2 separate regions of the Homo sapiens genome follow, and region 2 is linked to region 1. The links come from fine-mapping of genetic effects on gene expression. Tissue or cell type: whole blood. Region 1 holds a variant in brackets; the other region holds the start of a gene. All regions are shown on one strand. Distances are between the middles of the regions.

What was found. PIP is the estimated chance that this variant, and not a neighbour inherited with it, causes the effect.
Region 2: B3GALT6 starts here. The variant in region 1 is fine-mapped to the expression of B3GALT6 in whole blood (TOPMed, PIP above 0.99).

What each region holds. Positions count from the first base shown.
Region 1 is chr1:1,284,362-1,286,861 of GRCh38, reverse strand. SCNN1D (sodium channel epithelial 1 subunit delta) reads right to left here. Exons shown (of 18, transcript NM_001130413.4): 6 at 1,198-1,291; 7 at 584-936; 8 at 1-94. Among named protein-coding and RNA genes, the nearest start is that of SCNN1D, 5.2 kb to the right of the region's middle. The variant C/T (reference allele first, on the strand shown) is at 1,288.
Region 2 is chr1:1,230,642-1,233,265 of GRCh38, reverse strand. It overlaps B3GALT6 (beta-1,3-galactosyltransferase 6), which reads right to left and starts at 1,029. Exons shown (of 1, transcript NM_080605.4): 1 at 1-1,029. The coding sequence starts at 987. It overlaps SDF4 (stromal cell derived factor 4), which reads left to right and starts at 1,265. Exons shown (of 7, transcript NM_016176.6): 1 at 1,265-1,374. RefSeq lists enhancers at 1-629, 630-1,311 and a silencer at 928-1,787.

The DNA of each region.
Region 1 (2,500 bases):
TCTGCCTTTGCTGAGGTTGACGTTGTACAGGGAGTCAATGTTCTCCCTGGCAAACTCGTCCAGCAGCTCCAGATGGCGGAGGACCGGACTCGGCCTGGGACGCAGGGCCCTGGAGTCAGAGTTGCCGGCCCGGGGCCTCACACTGGCCCCAGCATCCCAGTGTGTGCTGTCGGGACAGCAGTGCCTCCCCTACTCGGGACGCCCAGTGGGGTGAGCTGGACCCAGAGCTGGAGTTGGAGGCCGTGGCTGCCGGTGAGGTCGGCCCCGGAGCCCAGCCCGCTCGCAGCCCCTCCCACCTTCCCTCCTTCTGGAAAGCCTCGCCCACCCCCACCTCTCCTCCCAGGCTCCCGAGGGCCCTGGTGTCCCTCCAGGGGGCAGTGACCACACTGAGCCCCCTCCTTGGCAGTCCGAGAGGTCCGGGCTGGGCACCGAGGTTTGGGAGGTCACAGTGACCAGGAGGGTGGCATTGACCACACAGAGCCCCCTCCTCGGCTACAGGGGCCAGTGGGGCTTCGGTTAGAGACGGTCACAGGGGCAAGGAGCTGGGGCGGCCACCCCTCCCGCCGACAGCCCTGGCCCTCACCGACGTGGGTTCCCGTCACACAGGGTGACCAGCGGGAGCAGCTTGCGCTCCGAGTGCACAGAGACGGCCATGAGGACCGGGCGGTGCCAGTGACGCTCAAAGAGGAGCCCCAGCTGCCAGCAGAGCGCGACCAGGGCTCCCAGGGACAGCAGCCCCCAGGACGTCGTCTTGAGGCGGTTCCCGCGGGAGCAGACCAGGCGGATGGCGCCGTGGATGGTGGCATTGGTGCAGAAGAAGGTGAGCAGCTCCCGGAACGAGGCGGGCAGCTCCACCAGCCCCTCCTGGTGCCCCTCCTTGGGTGGTGGTGGTGGTGCTGATGGTGGCCCCGGCCTGGGGGGCGTCTGGGCTGCAGCCTGTGTGCAGAGTGGCCTCAGCAGGGCCCGGCCTGCACCCACTCAGGCCTCCCTACCCTGGGCCTGTCATGTCTGTCAGCCACCAGTGCCCCGCCCTACCTGCTCGGTCGCTCGGACAAGCCCCTCCCAGGGTGCTCTGACACTGCGCCCTTCTCCCCGGATACACCCGTCCCTGACACGTCTCAGTGTAGCCTTGGAGCTGAGTTTGAGTTTGGGCTGCTGGGGCAGCAGGACTCAGAGAACAGGGTGCTCAGGCCCTACCTGGCCCTGTTTGCAGGCAGCGTTGTGCTGAGTGGGTCTGTGCTGCCATCCCTTCAGGTGGCAGGGCCTCTGGGGAGCCACAGGCCCAGG[C/T]GATCTACCCAAAGGCAAGTACGGTAGCGTGTCCATGCGCCCCGCGTGGGGTCTGGGGCTCAGGGGAAGACTTGCCCTTCTTGCCCCTGATGGCTGCACCCACCCCAGCCCCCAGTGTGGCCTGCTGAGGACCGACTGTGCCAGGCCCATCCAGCCAAGTCCAGGAAGCGTCTGGCCTGGACACCGCTCGGCACTGTGGCTCGGGGTGGCCCCATTGAGCTGAGTACCGGGGCCAGCTGCGGAGACACAAGGGCCCCAGGAAGCCCAGCCACTGCCTGCCCAGTCCCGCGCTGGAGGCTCTGGAGTCCTGGGACAGGCCTAGCTCTGGTCTGCGAGGCTGTCCCGCTGCCCAAGCCTGCTCCGAGGTACTCTGGGGAGGTGCTAGAGCGAGCCAGAAGCTTCGGGGCCTGGGGACACCAGGTGGGGACGGCTCCCCTCGGGTGTGTGGGCCGCACAGGCCTCCAGGCAGCCTGGCCAGGAGCTCCACCACTGGGCACATGGCTCTGCTCACCCTGCGTCCCCAAGGCCATCTGAGCAGGGAGGCTAAGAGGCTCGGAAGGGTCTTTGTGACTCCAGTCCCCACTCCTCGTCTCCACCTGGCGCATAGACAGGGCAGCACCATCCCCCTAGTGGGGGCTGCCAGGCCAGCAGAAGCGGGAGCTGTGGATTGGGGTCTGGAGGGCCAGTCAGGGTCCCCAGGGCTTCTGAGTGAGGCAGGGCCTGGACCCCTGGTCAGAGAGGAGCCGGACCCCACCCTGCATGTGCGCGTGTGTGTGAGACAGGACTACACTGGCCTCTCCACCCTGTCTGGATCTGCGTCGTGCCATGTGGCCAACCCACGGGATGCACAGCGCCTGGACACGCAGTATCTGCAGTGTTCTCCCGGGGTCTGTCCAGCACACGCTATGCACCCCCAATGGTCCAGCACACACTGTGCACCCCCAGTGGTCCAGCACACGCTCGGCACCCCCCGTGGTCCAGCACACGCTCGGCACCCCCCGTGGTCCAGCACACGCTGTGCACCCCCCGTGGTCCAGCACACGCTCGGCACCCCCAGTGGTCCAGCACACACTATGTACCCGCAATGGGACACAGCCTTCTTCAGGATAAGGAGGCACTCAGGGATGACCTGCCCCATTGCCACCATGCAATCCTGTTCCTGATGGCACACGGGGCCAGGCATCGGAAAGAGACCCCCCAACCCAGCCCCTGG
Region 2 (2,624 bases), 54 kb after region 1:
GGGGATGCCCTCCCTTCTCTGGCAGCACTGCGAGGGCGGCGCGGACCAGTCGTACACGTAGGACAGGCGCAGCTGCACCTCGCGCTTGCACAGGCGGCCCTCGCGCGCCAGCGTCGCGTGCTTCTCCAGCATGTCCTCCAGGCTCTGCTTGTGCGTCACCAGGTACTGGTTGCTGCAGCCGCGGGACCGGTATTCGGTGTCGAAGCGCGGGTCGTGCTCCCGCTGGACGTCCACCGGCGCCAGCCAGGCGCCCAGAGACACGTCCTCGCTGTGCCAGGCGCGCAGGTAGTCGCGGCTGAGGCGCAGGTAGTGCACCAGGTCGGCCGAGAGCACGTAGCCGCCGCCCAGCGCGTAGGGCAGGTAGTAGTCGCAGAGTTGCCAGGCGGCCTCGCGCCAGCGCCCCCCCGGCTTGACGCGGCCGCGGCCCGAGAAGAAGCCCCAGTAGAGGCGGCGGCGGCGCGCGGGCTCGCGGGCGCGCAGCTCGGCCAGCAGCGCGTCCAGCCGCGCGAAGGAGTCGTCGTCCGCCTTGAGCACGAACTCGAAGGCCACGTGCTCGTCCAGCCAGGCCAGCATGGCCAGCACCTTGGCCGTGAGGTTTTCGTAGGCGTCGCGCAGCGCGGGCAGCAGCAGCAGGTCCCCGTGCCGCGCCTGCTCCCGCTCCAGGGCGCGCCGCTCCTCGGCGCCCAGGCCGGCCGTGCCCACGGCAAAGCGCGCCCACACGTCGCCCGGGGCCCCGCGCCGCGCAAGCCACGTGCTGCGGATCACGCTGCGGCGCTCGGCGGCGCGGGGCGCGCTGGCCACCAGCACTGCCAGGAAGGCGGCGGCGCGCGCGGGCGCGGGGGGAGGCGGGCTGCGGCCCGACATCGCCCTGGGGTCCCCGGGCTCGGCCGCGCAGCGCGCCAGGTAGAGCAGCGCCGCCCCGCACAGCGCCAGCGTGCCCAGGCCTAGCGCCGCCCGCCGCCGCCACGCCCGCCGCAGCAGCTTCATGGCGCCCGCGCCGGGCCGGCGGCCCAGGCCGGACTCGCGAGTGCGCAGGCGCCGCCGGCTCGGGGCGGTGCGCGTGCGCACGGCGCTCCTGGGAGCGCGCCGGGGCCTTCCGCAGACGCCGAGCCCCGGGGCGCTCGGAGGCCGGCGGCCAATCGGCGGCCGTCACGTGGCCTCGGGCACCCTTGTCATTGGTCAACCTCGGAGCGGCCCCGCGACCGCTTCCGCCCGGAGGAGAGATGGTGGCGCCGGCGTCCCCTCCGTGAGGTCGCGCCCGTTCGCACCGCCCCCGCCCGCAAGAAAGATGGCAGTGGCCTGATCCGGGCCCGTTGGCGGCGTCACTGACGCTTCGCTCCGGTCCTCGGATCCCGAGCGCGGGGAGGCAGACCGGTGAGTGAGGGGCCCGGGACGGCCGCTGCAGGCCGCGGGGCCAAGTGTACGCCGGCCGGACGGCGAGGGCGGGTCTGGAGGCCGCCGCCGCCTCCCGCCTTGGGCTGGGGCATCGTCCGTCCGCTCGGCCTTGAGCCCTGGCGAGACTCCGCCGCCACCGGGGCTCCCGGGGTTCCCGGGGGCAGGGACAGGCCGACGACGCTGGCCTCCCCGGCCGCCGGCACGTCTGGTCTCCTACTGGCCAAAACCTACGAATGCCACCGGGAAACGGAGGCCCAAGGGGTCTGGTTGGACTCGCGTTTATCGGCGAGGCGACCTTGGACAAGCTGCCCCGCTTCCCTGCGCCTGCGCTTCCGCTTCTGAACCGCGTGGACCCTCATCCCCAGTTAGTAGGATTTGGAGATGTGAAGTCGGCTGTGTGGAGCCCTTGATGTCTGGCTCAGAGGCGGTGTTATGAACCCTGTTGAGCTTTTAGAATCTAACCGTGTGTGTTGTTAACTGCCAGAAATAGCCTCGTTCCACCAGAGCTGAAGCCCAGGGATGGCAAAGAAATAGCGTCTCTGCCTAAGCTGTTTCCCACGTCCGTTTTGCAAGGGTGTGTTGATTCCTTGCTGGGAACTGAGCTGCTAGGGGATGGCGAAGTCGAAACCCCATTCCGGTGGGACCGGCCCGCTCCGCTGTGCTGCGAACCTGGCACACCGTGATGAATAGATACTCTGAAGCCAGGAGAGGAAGCGCCACTTGATGGACTCCTGATATTTATAGTTACTTTTGGGTTACTTTTTATTCCCCCTTTTTCGAGACAGGGTCTTATCTTTTTGTTTTTGTTTTTTAAAGAGACGCAGTCTCACTGTGTTGCCCAGGCTGGTCTCACGATCCTCCTGCCTCAAGTAAACCGTGTAACTCATCAAGATATGTAGAATCAAGAACTAGCTTTATTTTCTCTAGGAACAAAGTACAGTCTCTTTGCACACAGCGTGTGTTTTACGACTGTAGTTAGTGGAGTCAGCACCAGGAGGAGGTGTCTTGGTTCTTATCCAGGACTCTCCCCTGGTCAGGCGATCTGGGACGACAGGAATAGAATTATGCCACCACTAGGGAAGGGAAAAGCCCTCAGCCATGTTCAGAAAATCAGGCCGGGTGCATGGCTCACGCCTATAGTCCCAGCACTTTGGGAGGCCGAGGCAGGAGGATCACTTCAGGTCAGGAGTTAGAGACCAGCCTGGCCAACATGGCAAAACCCCATCTCT